Homo sapiens: one gene and its partner. The protein of the gene in region 1 interacts with the protein of each later gene in a pairwise test. Each region holds a gene or a part of one and is shown on either strand. Other genes may lie near its edges.

The links.
Region 2: the proteins of TMEM106A (region 1) and TNMD interact in binary tests that used the Homo sapiens proteins (3 or more experiments, as listed by UniProt).

Annotation. Positions count from the first base shown.
Region 1 is NC_000017.11:43,207,605-43,215,204, forward strand, and holds the start of TMEM106A (transmembrane protein 106A), read left to right. Parts: upstream 1-4,270; 5' UTR 4,271-4,318; intron 4,319-4,600; exon of another isoform or gene 4,601-4,622; 5' UTR 4,623-4,790; intron 4,791-5,416; 5' UTR 5,417-5,437; coding exon 5,438-5,648; intron 5,649-6,223; coding exon 6,224-6,287; intron 6,288-7,600. Other genes in the region: NBR1 (next to BRCA1 gene 1 protein), read left to right, coding at 2,297-2,470. UniProt on the Homo sapiens protein: Activates macrophages and polarizes them into M1-like macrophages through the activation of the MAPK and NF-kappaB signaling pathway.
Region 2 is NC_000023.11:100,587,554-100,595,148, forward strand, and holds part of TNMD (tenomodulin), read left to right. Parts: intron 1-6,341; coding exon 6,342-6,482; intron 6,483-6,707; coding exon 6,708-6,809; intron 6,810-7,595. UniProt on the Homo sapiens protein: May be an angiogenesis inhibitor.

The DNA of each region.
Region 1 (7,600 bases):
CCACTTCAGCCTCCCAAATTGCTGGGATGAGAAACTTGAGCCGCTGCACCCAGCCCATCTCATATACTTCATCTCTACATTACTTACAATACCCAATACAATGTAAATGCTATCTGAATAGTTGTTATACGGTATTCGGGAATAATGACAAAAAAGTTTGTACGTGTTCCTTTTTTTCTCCCCAAATATTTTCAGTCCTTTGGTGACTGATCCATAGATGAGGAACCCACAGATAATGGCAAGCCAACGGTATCCATCCAGATCACAGGGGAGGGATTTGGCCTGGTGATACATGCTTGAGAGTCACTTGCCTACAGATTATAGCAGAAGCCATCTGATGGAATGAGATGATCCAGGAATAATGGGGAAAGCAAGAAGCAACCTTTAAGGATCAGGGAAAGGAATACTCTGAAAGAAAGCTGGGAACTAGGAGGAAAATGAAGAGAGAGAGTTCTATGCTGGAACTTAAGGAAGGGTGTTTTAATAAGGGGGACATGGTCAACGGTGTTAGATGCTACAGAGAGATATGAACTGGTGGTGAGGAATTTGAGAGTAGAAGTATGCCACACTTTCAAATAGACAGGCTACAACAGGCAGAAGCTAGGATACATAAGACAAGAGGAAGCATTTTTAAAGTTGGGTGAGACTTTAGAGATGGGCAAGCCAGCAGTGAAAGAGGTTAATGATAAAGATGAGAAGACAGATTGGAGATGGAGAAAGATTTCTGAAGTGGTGAGAGGTAATAAGATACAATGCAAGGTACATTCCATTAACCTGCAAAGGAGGATGGATAATCTATTCTGAAATAAGAAGGTAGAATGGAACAGTGGAATCAGGTTTGGAGGGAAATGCTTAACATGTTTGCATACTGTTCTCATCTTTACATACTTTTTCAACAACCCTGCAAAGTAGGAGGTATGATATATCTTCAGTTCATAAAGGAATTGATAGCACAGTTGGTAAGTAAATGGAAGATTAGGGTTTGAGTCTAAGCCTATCTGCCTCCCAAGTTAATAATCTTTCTGCTGCACAGTTTCAGTATCCCCAGTCTGTGAAATTGGGATAATAACAGAACCAGAGGCCAGGCGAGGTGGCTCACATCTATAATCCCAGCATTTTGGGAGACCAAAGTTCAAGGATCACTTGGGCCCAGAAGTTCAAGACCAGCCTGGGCAACATAGGGAAACCTCATCTCTAGTAAAAAATTTAAAAATTTGCCGGGCGTGGTAGCGCAGACCAGTGGTCCCAGCTATTTGGAAGGCTGAGGCAGGAGGATCACTTGAGCCCAGGAGGTTGAGGCTGCAATGAGCTGTGTTCACACCACTGCACACCAGCCTGGGGAACAGAGTGACACCCTGTCTCAAAAAACAAACAAAACAACAACAACAACAAAACAAGCGTTTAAGGATTTAGGAAGGTAATGCTTCCACCACAGGGCTTGAATGAATGAATGTTAACTTCCTCTTACCTATTCTTGTTTTTTTTTTTTTGAGATGGAGTCTCGCTCTGTCACCCAGGCTGGAGTGCAATGGCGCGATCTCGGCTCACTGCAAGCTCCACCTCCTGGGTTCACGCCGTTGTCCTGCCTCAGCCTCCCGAGTAGCTGGGACTACAGGCGCCTGCCACCACGCCTGGCTAATTTTTTGTATTTTTAGTAGAGATGGGGTTTCACTGTGTTAGCCAGGATGGTCTCAATCTCCTGACCTCATGATCCGCCCGCCTCAGCCTCCCAAAGTGCTGGGATTACAGGTGTGAGCCACCGCACCCAGCCCCTCTTACCTATTCTTTTGGAGGAGAAAAAATCAAGAAGCCTTCCCAGGTTGTAATTTCCCAAGCTGTTTTTTTTGTCCAGCTCCTCTGCATATCTGACAAAATTTCCCATAGCATCTTTCAGTAACACTTTTATCTTGCTCATACTTCCCCCATCATCACAATTACACTTATGTTCACAGGGTCTCTGGGGCTTGCTGTCATTCCTTCATCTGGCCAAAAAATGCTTCTTCCTGAAAGCCCCGAGTGAAGCATTCTCCTGGTTCTAAGTACAGTTCATTAGCTCCCCGGTTTCCCTTTTCTCCTCCTTCAAGTACACAGATAACTAATCTAAAATAGGGCCTTCCCAGTCCGAACCGTTGGTATCAAGTACACAGGAGTGCCATAGCCTTGAATCTAATTACCTAGTACTTTGAATAAATCTGGAAAGACTAGTATGCTTGCAAGATGATACAAATGTATAAAATAAACATTTAAATTATACAGAATTTTTTTTTTTTTTTTTGCTTTGCTTGTCTCTACACAGCCAATAATTTCTGAAGATCAGACAGCAGCCCTGATGGCCCATCTCTTTGAAATGGGATTCTGTGACAGGCAGCTGAACCTACGGCTGCTGAAGAAACACAATTACAATATCCTGCAGGTTGTGACAGAACTTCTTCAGTTAAACAACAACGACTGGTACAGCCAACGCTATTGAGGAGTGACCTTGTATTAAATAACTGCCTGCTGCTCAGAGATGATCTTTATTCTGTCATTGGGGTATGGGATAGAAGCCCTTGCTTATTTTTAATCTGATGAATCTGTATAGAGCCCATCGTTGAGTTACCAAGACAATACCTGCTACAGTATTTTGGGGAGCAAACTAAAGACCAGAACTTAAATTTTCACTTTAGACATTGGATGAATAGTATGAAGACAGTTTTTCAGTTGATTTGGATAAAACTATTTTAGTGCATTGACAAGTGTAACTTCAACTTCATATAGAACCATTTTTCTTTCTGCTTTTATTGAAACTGAGTATTTTTCTTTGGCTAATGTGGATTTTTTATGGGGATATCTGTTAATTTTCAGGTTTTGAAAGACATTAACCTCGGAAGTTGTTTTTAAGAATTATTCTCATAATTCTTATTCTCATAATTTCTGTAATCCACCTCAAGCTTCATAGTTATTTGGCATTGAAATAACACCCAGAGCATGATAGAAATGTTGTTACTCTTCCTCTCTCAAGGAGAAAGTAATTTTCCTGCAATACTTAATAATTGGCACCGTTGCTTTCTAAAGACTCCATGGTGCATTCAAGAGTATCCAACTTCAAGGGAATCTCCGCATTTCAATGAAAGGAGGAAGAGTGTGCTGATAAACCTACCAGCACCTATTGAGCAATGTCTATTATAGTAATTTTGCATACATTTTTATTTAAGGGAAAAAATATAGGTATTGTGAAATATTTTGCTAATCTTATAGAAAAGGAAAAAATCCCGTTATTTAAAGGGAAAAGTAAATTTAACAGTTGCCTTTTTTCTTAATGTCAGGGCAGATCTTATTTTACAGTACAGTGGGGGAAATAGAAACATGTGAAAGGCAAAAGGCAGGCTCCTAAATTAATGTCAGTGAAGTTCAGGGTGGGCAAATGAGTGTGTGTGAGGTATAGGAAATGCTGATGACTTCTTTAATGCTTGAAGTCCGTTCACAGGTATCTAGCCCTAGAATGCCTAGAACAGGAAGAGGCAGCTGGTGTTCTGCAAAACTTGGACAGGGGCAAAGTTGCTGAAAAAGTTTTGGTTTAACCCGAAGATAAGTGGAAAAGAGCTTGTCCATGAACCCAGGTTCTCACTCTGTTTACAGAAGTGTGTTGAGTACAGTTGGTGAAGGAAGAGGTAACAAAAAATGCTAAATATTTTATCCATGAAAATGACTTCCAGAAAAGGAAGAATATGAACCCCAGACCGAAGGGGAAAAGATAGTTAATAGTATTATCTAACCTGGTTGGTATTTGTAATGAATGGTGATTTTAATTAGTCATTAGCCATAATGATGTTTATTTACAGTATAACTCCTGAATGCTACTTAAATAAACCAGGATTCAAACTGCAAGCCAGCCAGGCCGTTCATTATTTAAAACGTTTTAATCGGGGCTTCCGGGTAGAAGGTGGAGCGGCAGGGTGTAATTGGGTTGATGGGTGGGACCTGTCTTGACCATCGGAGTTTTATAATCGAGGGCCAGGAGGGCCCGGGTTGCTCTCCTGGTTATGTATGTACTTGTACATAACCACCTAAAGAATGGTGAAATAAATGTTCTTGGAAATTCCTACCCGGACTGGCTAGTCCTTGCGGAAGCAGCGTCCGGGCCCTCGGGTAACGTTTGAAGAGCTGGCAGCGTCTCAGGCTGCTGCGTGGCGAAGGGGCGGACCGGGGGACGGGGGGGTGGGCCCTTAGGGGCTGGGGCGGGACTTCCCTGGGCACTGAGTCAAAGCTTGAGGGGAGTGTTCGCTCCCGCATTTTCGATTCCACTCTCTTCCGTTTCTGTCGCTGCAGTCGTCCGCGGGTAAGGCCCTCCCTAGACCCTTTATACCTACTTTACCTTTCGGAGGTCAAGACACCTCCTGTTGCCGCCTCCTCGCCCAACACACAGGCGCCCCCCGCACGGGTACCAAGCTTGACTAACGGCCTCTAGGGGTGTGTGGTGGGACTTGAAATCCTCCCTTAATGAAGTCACACCTTCTCCGTCCGCTTCCACCCGGTCGGCCCATGGCAGAGCCCCCATGTAGCCCAGGAATCGGCTTGGCCCTTCGGGGAGGTCAGCGTCCTTACTATCCCCACTCTCCAGTGCGGCACATTCGTTCCCCTAGGACTCCGGCCGGTTGCCGGCCCCAGGCGGTGCTTCTCCCCACCACCGCCCAGCTCAGCTCAGCCCAGCCCAGCCCACTCTGCCCTTAGAGGCCCTTCTCCCCAAAGACGCACTCCAGAAGTCTCGCCCTCGTGCGGCTGAGGAGCCTGGGATCCCAGACCTGAACAAGGTGAGCATCCCTATATTTTAGCCCAGAAAGATCTGTGTGGCTCACTTGCCGGCCTCGTTCTGTCACACAGAGTCCAGATTTAGCCTTGAGTTTTCCTAGTGAAAGACAGACCCTGGTATCACTATGACCCTCCTCAGGCTTTCTTACCCCGCCTCAGAAAGCAGTGAGGTGTCTGCTTTCTCCCAGGGCTTCTTTAGATAGGGGTCTTAACCACACCTGTGACCAGTCTGGCCTCCTCTCTCCTTGATTCAAAGAATCTCTTTTCTGCCCTATCCAACTTCCTTCCCTTAAACTGAATGACAGCTCAGCAACTTTTCCAGAGAAAAATTAAATGCTCTGACAATCACTTATGGAAGTTCCTTAAAGTGAAGTAACTTCTGCTTTTCTTTTGTTTTCCCTTTTGTAGGCAGATTGGTCTCTTTTAAAATAATGAAAGGAGTCGAAATGCATTGAGACTTCTGAGAGTCCCATGTGACCACCCAGTTTTTCACATCCTATCTTCCTTAGGCTTGAGCTTGCTTAAACTGTGGTGAAGCTCCTTGCCAGTCTTGAGAACTTCAAACCAAAATTACATCTGGCGTCAGTGCTAACAAGCTTAGCACTGAACTTTGGTCTTTTCTCATTAGTGAAACCCCCGCCCCTGAAGAATGGGTAAGACGTTTTCCCAGCTGGGCTCTTGGCGGGAGGATGAGAACAAGTCAATCCTGTCCTCCAAACCAGCCATTGGCAGCAAGGCTGTCAACTACTCCAGCACCGGTAGCAGCAAGTCTTTTTGTTCCTGTGTGCCTTGTGAAGGAACTGCTGATGCCAGCTTCGTGACTTGTCCCACCTGCCAGGGCAGTGGCAAGATTCCCCAAGGTGAGTGGCCCAAGGCTCTGGAAATAGCCTGGAATCCAGGGAAAGTTCTTAGCCTGTTGGCCTGGGGCAGCCCCTCTGAGTCTCCTTGGATGGGGTTAGATCTGCTCCCAGCTCTTGACCTCCCAGTCTCAGGCTGGCCAGGGAGATACTTAACTATCCTTGGGTTCCCTGCAAAAACCTGCCCTCCTTCCCTGGTTGTATTCTCCAGCCCCTTGTGGGAAAGAAGGATTCTAGCCACTGTGCTTCTGAGCAACACTGTGTGTCCTAGGATTCATTCAGTTCAGGAAGTTACAAATGAACTTTCCAAAGATGCTGGGCATCTCTGATTTGCTGGTGACTTTCAGAGATTCTTCATACCTATTAGTGGAAATCTCACTTCCATTCTAGAGATGGCAAAGCTGAGCTGCCAACTTTGGTAGCAGAGTCCAGTGCTTCCAGTCCTGCTCTGGGGCAGATGTGGCATGTTTCTAACATTGCTCTATGGTGTGGGTGGAGGCGTGCTTCTGGGAAGCTGGCACAGTAAATATTTGTCACAGTTGCATCTTGGCCCTCCCTCTCACCTTCTCTCTCTCTAGAGCTGGAGAAGCAGTTGGTGGCTCTCATTCCCTATGGGGACCAGAGGCTGAAGCCCAAGCACACGTAAGCCCCCCTTCCTCCCCTAGCTTCACAAGCCATTGCCCCTGGGGGCTGCTCCCTTTGTCTCCCCTGTTTTGATCTCCCTTAATTTCTTCCTATTAGTTCTTCCATAGAAAGCCTGAGCCTCAGAGGTACCAGCTCCTTACGTCCAAGGATTTTTTCCTGATTTAGAAGCTCCTGGACCGGGTGTGGTGGCTCATGCCTGTAATCCCAGCACTTTGGGAGGCCAAGGCAGGCAGATTACTTGAGCTCAGGAGTTCAAGACCAGCCTGGGCAACATGGTGAAACCCCATCTCTATCAAAAAAAAAAAAAAAAAGAAAAAAAAAAAGAAAAGAAAGAAAGAAAGAAAAAAGCAGCAGCTGTGGGCACAGCAGATGTCACTTGAGGCCACCTGGTGGGCTTCCTTAAGCATCACTGCTTCCAGAAAGCATGGCCCCCTCTCCAAGACAGGAAGGATCTGGTAGCTCTGCAAGTCCTCCCAGGAAGGAGGGAACAAGCATGTGGCCCTGGCTGCAATTGATTTGAAAATGTTATTTTTCTTAAGCACCTCCCTTGCTGAGGCAGTTCAGATTTGCTTGTTTTTCTTCTAGTAGAGATGAAAAACCTATTGTCCGCTGTTCTGGGATACTTCAGAACCTCAGGCAGACCTGGGGCCTACTGTGTTTGTGATCTGAGTCCATCTGACATGGAGCTCCCTCAACCTCCTCCCAAGGTCCTGGTGTCAACCTGGGAGTCACCACCAAGCCGAACCCTCTCCGCCACCCCACTATACCAGAATTAGAAATCAGGCTGGGCGTGGTGGTTTATGCCTGTAATCCCAGCACTTTGGGGAGGCCAAGACAGGCGGATCACCTGAGGTTAGGAGTTCAAGACCAGCCTGGCCAACATGGCGAAACCCTGTCTCTACTAAAAATAGAAAAATTATCTGGGCGTGGTGGCAGACACCAGTAATCCTAGCTACTTGGGAGGCTGAGGCAGGAGAATTGTTTGAACCCAGGAGGTGGAGGCTTCAGTGAGCCAAGATCATGCCACTGCACTCCAGCCTGAGCAACAGAGCGAGGCCTCATCTGAAAAAAAAAAAAAAACAAAAAAAAACCCTGTAATCCCAGCACTTTGGGAGGCCAAGGCGGGCAGATCACGAGGTCAGGAGTTTGAGACCAGCCTGACCAACATGGCAAAACCGCCTCTACTAAAAATACAAAAATTAGCCGGGCATAGTGGCAGGCACCTGTAATCCCAGCTACTCAGGAGGCTGAGGCAGGAGAATGGCGTGAACCCGGGAGGTGGAGGTTGCAGTGAGCCGAGATCGTGCCAC
Region 2 (7,595 bases), on another chromosome or scaffold:
TGGGGAGTTATGATTCATTGTCTTTGATATTTAAGTCATGGCCTTCATAAGACCAGGTTTGGTTCATTGAAAACTAAGAAATCAGCTGGAAATGAGGATGCTTTACTTAGTCCACTACTACCTTCAGGTCCCAGACAAAGATCTCAAGAGACCATCTATGTTTCCAATGGGTACGCCTATCAACAAGCCTGCCTTAGAGCAGACTTAAGAATTCTGGGAAGAGACTAGCAGTCAGATTAGTCTTGGAAGAGTTGCATAGGAAAGGGACACAGGCATCTTACATAAATTAAAGACTCTCCCCTTAATGGTATGGCCTAGCAAGAAACAACAGCAGATTAAAATCCAGGCTCTTTGGGCTTTCCTTAACAAATCTATGAGACTTGTTGGGACTCTGTGGCCCTTGGTAGAGAGAGCTGTGCATGCAACTGTGCTTATTGGTGGCAGTGATTTGTTTGCAGTCCTGGGATTTCCTCCAAGCTCTTAGTGTTTGCTCTCCTAGCCTCCACCACGCCTCCTTTTTATTTTGTCTTTCAACATCTGTGTATAATAAACAGTATTTATTTAACATCCCACATCTGGTGTTGACATTTCCATGCCAATAAGTCCTTCTCCTCACTCCCGCTTTGGTGTGTACAAAAGATCCAGATTCCTGTATCCAAATTGAGAACAAGCCATGCTTGACCTCCTCCCCTCACATACCTCAGGTCTGCGTGCACACAGGTGTGCACACGCACAGACTCACACACACACAGACACACACACACACACACACAGACCAGAGAGAGAATGAAATCAAAATAAAGTGAAACAAGGACGACTAACTCTGGGTGAGCTGCTGCATTTTCTTACAGGTCCCAGGCCCCTGACCCACAGCCACATACAGGAGCCACCTGAGCTAAATGAAAGCCAGGTCCATCCAGCTCTGAATTCAGCTTTCTTAAACAAGCAGAAGAGACCTATTCAGTCCCAGCAATTTTGAGAAAGCATCGTAATGAGGCTCCCCTTCTAGGCAGTGACTGCCCTGGGATCATTGAAGCAGAATCACCAAAGAAACATTCTTGCTTAAAGCCCCCTGTATTACACATTTTACTGGAAACAGTCAGAAGCCAACTCCTCAGCTAATTAATCCAACATGAAGCAAACAAATCAGAAAAATCCTAGCCCTTAAACCAACAGTTTAGAAACTTAGCACAGACCTTGTAGCCCATCCCTGCCAATCCTTTGTGGAGCGAGGCAGAAGAATCATACATTTAATAAATGAAAGAGTGTCCTTACTGCCTTACATAGGAGCTGCCTGGTGACTTTAGGGTTGTTTGAAAGCCATCAGGACCACAGTAATCAATAGATTCGTGAGGATGTTCCTTCAACTTCTATATATTACCAGAGCAATGAGGAGTGGTAGGGATAAGCGGGCACTTTTCTGCCCTCCTGCCACACCTCAGTTGCAGGTGATCACTAAAACAGTCTCCCCCAGCGTTGTGAGTCCACTATCATTCTAGGTTGAAAATCCTTTGCTCAGAAGAAGCACTTTCTTGACGAGTCTGATTGCAACATTTTGTGCGTGCCTATTTCTTGGCACGCACAATTGGGCATTAGCCCAATATTAACTTTTTTCGCTCCTCTCTAGGCACACAAGGAAGACAACTTTTTTCTCCAGGTCCCCTGGGCTTTCCTACACCACAGTCCGGTGGGTGAAATGTGGGTCTAGAGAAACATTAATATACCCTCAAGGAAAAAGTTGAAGGAGTAGCCGGAATATTTTTGGCAGGGAGACTGAGCTTTACCAGATGGTGCCATGTTGGCATTTTCAAAAAAAAAAAAAAAAAAAAGACCTCTCTTCATTTTCCTCTTAAAGCATTGTGAGACCCAGGTCCACCCTTGTACAACTCTCACTGGGCCAGCTCTTATTCTGGGCTACTCAAGGGCAGCTCCCAGCAATTATGTGGAGCCAGGCTGTGGCTGTGATGGGCATGTTCTTCTTAGTCAGTCTCTTCATTCTCCTAAGGCAGCATTTGCTGAACAACTTATATGACACCAGGATGAAGAGCCTGGGCCTTCAAAGACAGCTGTTCTGGAGTGGTTGAGAGTGGAATTGGGGCTGTGGAGGAAGTAGCCTGGATGATCAACAGATAGTGGCAGTAGGCGTAGTCCAGTGATCAACCTGACAGGTTGATCTGAGCAAATCTCAGCAGACTTTGCTAACTATCTAACATTACAGATGAAAAGGGGTAAAGGATTAAAATAGGAACTGAGTCCCTAGAGACACTCAGTGATTTGCCCAAAATCACACAGCTTGTAAGTGGTGGGGTTAAGGTTAGAACTAGAGGCTAGTCTGAAGATTCTTTCCACTATTCTTCAGCTGCATTTAAGAATCAGGGATGGGGATAATGGGTAGGAGAAAAACTTACTGGTCAGCTCAAGTCTGTAGATAAAAGAAGTAGCTTTTTCTTGTTGAAAAAGAATGTCTGTGCTGCTTATGCCAATATTTTGCATATTGCCAAATGGTGATTGAAGATGCAGAACTCTAACTTTGCATAAGGAACAATCTGTCTGCTCTGTGTTGGTAAAGAAATACCCAGAGGCCCTTTAATTCCCCCAAGTTAGGTTAATAATAATATGGTACAGTGCATTCTCTTCCCTTCCTTCCAGCCTAACACCTGCTAGCCAGCTATTCTGAGCATGTATTTCACCTTTGGAGAGTGTACCTCATAACAGACAGTAAGGGATGAAGATGGAGTGAAGAGCAGCTAGATTAATCACAGGCTTCAAAAAACAAACCTAAGCCAAATGTCCTCAAATCCCTGTCAGGACAGGCTAAAGCTTCTTGCCCCTAAAACAGATCCATCACACTGAGGTCTGAGATAGCTTTACCTTTTCTAAATAGCTTTCTTTTCTGATCTCAGGGACTGCCACAGAGGCAAGAAAACAAGGAAAACTGTGAAAGAGGGATGTTAGGGCTCATTTGCTGCCTGAATGGAGGATTTAACTGGACTGAAGACAGAATTCCTGGGCAGGGAAGAAAAATGGGTTGTGTCCTCTACATATTTTGTCAGTGTGGTCTTCTTACACTTCTCACTGCCTGGACTTAACCACATATCTGTCTCATTTCACTTCTGATTCCTATTCCACTCCATTGGCTTCCTTGTTCCATTCCAGTGTTCTGGTTCTTATAGTTAAGGCCAGCCTTATGTGTGGGTGGAGTAAGAGCCCATTTGAGTGGTGCTGGAAAGATGCCCTTGCCCCCAAATATCTCCCATTCCTCGTGCCACTGTGCCTATTAGATTGGTGCAAAAGTAACTGTGGTTTTAGCCATTGAAAGTAATGGCAAAGTAATAAAGTAATAAAATCCACTATTAGTACTTCATTCCTCTGAGTGAAGTATTGCACTCAAATTTTTAAACAGACAAATATTCATCACTAATATCTAAGTGTGAAATCATGGGTCAGATTGATTTCTTCTTTGTCATAAGGTACCTGAAGCACCACGAGATTCCTAGATGTCTAGACAGGAGACAAAGGGACAGAAATGGGAAGAGAAAGGGGAAGGGCTATGAGGGTATAGAATGAACAGAATATGAAAATAGAGCAGAAAAGGAAAGCTAGAAGCACCAAAAATTAACTCTCTCTATTTTCCAATTGGGCAGGGGTGTACTCCTCATCATATTCTGTCCTTGCTCTATCCTCCCTGGAATAAAGCTGAGTTGGAGGCAGCTGAGATGAGCTACTTGTAGCCCACTCACACCTCTCTTCAGGCCAGTCATCCTGTCTCTGCTTTAGCTTGCTCCTGGAGAGGACAAAGCCATTTATTCTTTCATCTCCAGAAAGACCTTCAACCCCTGAGCCAGGAAGCTTAGTAGAGAGCAAAGTACTTGTGATGCCAAAGGCATGAGCTCAGTCTTCATACGGGCCAGTGAAGCTTGCATAGCCATTACCCAAGCAATGTGCTCCACAGGGACCCAGGCGAGACAGTGTGTCTGGATTTGCTCATACCCATCTCCAAACAGTCCAAAGTGGGCCACCAGCATCATCTTCCTAGACGAAGAACAGTCTGTTCCAAAAGGACACCTTTGATAGTGGAATTCTGTCTGGGTGAATATATAGCTCCCCACTCCTACCCCCTACCAAGGATTCACACATAAACGAAGTCATTCTGTTCCCACTCTAGTAACTTATCATTACTAACATAAAGCCAACAAGTTGGTTAATGAACACAATCAGAATGGACCCCTTCTCCCCTACCAAAAAAACTCTTTGCAGGAATGTTGAAAATAATCAAGATCTGCTGAGCTTGGCAGTTTCCAATAGTTTTCATCTAGCAAGGTGTCCAAGTAAAGTGCATTGCCAACAGTGCAGGAAAACTCATTCCACAGAAGCACACTGAAATTCTAAATGTCACCAGTAGGTTCCATAGTCTTCTACCAGTGATTGAAAATACAGCCTGTATTTTCTCTTTCGCCCAGGTAGGCAGTGTTCCAGCATCCCCTAGTCTCTAACCTCATTTTTCCATACAATAATCCATCAGTGGTGCTACTGATGAAATAAACACCCCACCGCAGCCCCCAATGGCTAGTGGCATCAACATTTGTCTCAAAAATGGATAGTATTTCTAACAAAATTCCCCCGTTGGGAGAGCTGACAGGACTGGATCTGAAGTGGATGCCTCTCTTTTCTACTTAGGTCAGACAGACTGAGAGCTCAATTTGTTGCCACAGGTAGAAGTTTCTCTTCTCAAGCTGGCTGCAGAGCTGGAACTGAGGACATATTTATTGCTAGAAGCAAATAACAAACCTAAAGGAATTTGCTACCTATCACAAACCAGGCCAGACTTCCTGAGTTAACTCTGCAGTTGCCAGAGAGTTCTAAGTATTGTTTTTCTTTCACTTTTAAAATGGTTTTTTTAAAAGACCTTGCCAATACTCAAAAATGTCTCTTTAGGAAGATAAGGATGTGCCATTGGTGGGGACAACTTATTCAACAAATACTTAGGTTCCAACCATGTCCAAAGCACTGTAGGGCTACCAAGAGGTAAATGACATTGTCTCTTGTTTTTCTCTTCAGCAGCTACATTAGACTTGTCACCCTTGAAGTAACACTTGCTTCTACAAATGGTTCCAATTTGTTTTTCTCTAGTTGAGTTGGTGAATATTTCACCAGGTTAAACTAACATTCAGTCAATGGCATCAGCAGAGACTAAAAAATGACCCAACCTGGTGTAAGTTCTCTATAAGGCTGCCACTGGGAACCGTATCATTAGAAAGCAATGTGGGCTCTGAAGAAGACTTGCTTTTTCAGGCTTTTAGTTTCCCAGATTTTTTTCATAAGGAAAAATGAACATGGAGAAACTCGATAAACAAAGGTCTCCTAATGACAGAGATAAGATAGACTTCCAAAAGGCATCATCAGGTCTGGCCTGGTTTGTGACAGATAACAAATTCCTTTATGCTTATTTGCTTCTACCTATAAATATGTCCTAAAACTATAAGTTATGGGCTTACTCCTAAACTGCAGTGCCATATGGGACTGGTCCTCTTGGTCTTTAGAAATACAATTGCCTCTTTTAGAGTGCAGGAGAAAATCTGGGGTTTTGTTTTAGCCACTCAAGAAAGACCTGATGAGCAGTCTTTCTTCTTGGGAGGCTCCATGTTACTTAATGCAGGACACTTGGCTCAGTTGGCTTAATTCCATATACACAAAAGAATCCGTAGAACTTGAAAACAACTGAATATGGCTTGGGAAACAGAACCCAGGAATAAACTGGGTGGGGTTGGTTGCCGTATAAAGAGAAGGCTAAGGGAAGGCAATAAATGTTTCCTGGAGTTTAAGGGGCAAAAGGAAGCAAACAGAGCAGGGTAGGGCTCTAATATTGGCAAGGAGAAAGTCTTCAGATTCTAAAAGGAATAGACTCAAGGCTGTTGTGGCAATATTAAAGCCCTGGATAAATAAGGAGACAAAAAACACTTAACCATTTTAAGTGTATTCAAATCTCTTTCTAAGCCCTAATGAATTTCACGGGTGAGGGGCGGGGCAGTAAGGGGGGGGTCGTGATTACTTAGCACTTGGAAAGGGAAGTGGTAGCTTAAAGAAGCAGCATAGGTTTTAGGTGATCCCTCAGCTTAACACAAGGGGAAAATACTTTATAGGCTGGTTTGCAAACTATCATTTGCTGTTTAGTCAAGGCTGCCAAGAAAACTGTTGGAATTCTTAGTAATTAGCTCAGCAGCTTGGCTTGAATTCAAAATACCAGCTCTGAAGGGATCCCCATATCAGCTCCAGCGCCAAAAAGCACCTCACTTTAGGGACACACTGAGTATCTTAGAGATTGTTTTCCTCTGTTCTCCCAGGCCTATGACATGGAGCACACTTTCTACAGCAATGGAGAGAAGAAGAAGATTTACATGGAAATTGATCCTGTGACCAGAACTGAAATATTCAGAAGCGGAAATGGCACTGATGAAACATTGGAAGTGCACGACTTTAAAAACGTAAGTTGGATGTTTTCCTCCTAAGGCTTTCCACTTAAAATATTAGAGCAGTTGAGTCAAGTTAAAAATAGCCTCCATCTAAAATTTGAATTCAAATGGAAAGCTAGCCTCCTCTAGCTTTCCATTTGAATTCAAATTTTGCTAGTCTGGGACCCCAACAGATCATGGAACTTACTAATAGTGGCTCTTTTGGGAAGCTTTATTGTTGTTTTGTCTGTTTTATAGGGATACACTGGCATCTACTTCGTGGGTCTTCAAAAATGTTTTATCAAAACTCAGATTAAAGTGATTCCTGAATTTTCTGAACCAGAAGAGGAAATAGATGAGGTATGTAAGAAGAATAATTGTGGTGGCAAAAGACATCATTTATTGGATGCTAGCTATGTGCCAAACATTGTACTAAATGCTTTACTTTTCTTTGATTCTCCAACAACCTTATAAATAGATACTATTGTTATCATCATTTTCAGATCAGGAAACTAGAACTCAGAGCCAAAAAGTGACTTGCTCAAGGCCACACAGCTAGTGAGTAGCAGATTGGGGTCTTGAACTTAGGCCTTTCAGAAAACTCAAGTGCATAATTTTAGGTGCAATGCTATACTCTTATACCCGGGCACCCATTAACATTATGTTGATTTTCTCTGAAACCAAAGATTTCTAGTAAGAGGGATGAGCCAGAGAAACAAAATCAATCTTGCCTCAGATAAAGCGTTTTTAAAAAAGAAAGTTCCAAAGCCACCTGGGGTTCTTGCCACTTTTGTCACACTTCAGTATTCACCTATTTTAAAGATTGTGGTTCATTCACCTTACCATTTTATGCTGGGCTGCTAATGGAATAATTCACATTTAACCTCAGTAGGAAAGGCAAAAGCAAAGAAGGTGAACACTGCAATGGGATACAAATTCTCTGAAAACACCCTGCTAGACCAAAGTAAGGCAACCTAGGGTGCTGGTGAAATCACTGAATGGCCCTTTAAAACCTAATGGGAGATGGATGTTATTGCCTAAAATACAACGATCTGTAAGGCCCTTGAGGCTCTTTATTGTTCCCTGATATTTTGTCTATAATTACAGTATGGTTTTATTAGTGGGAGGAGAAGGGGGACCTCAGTT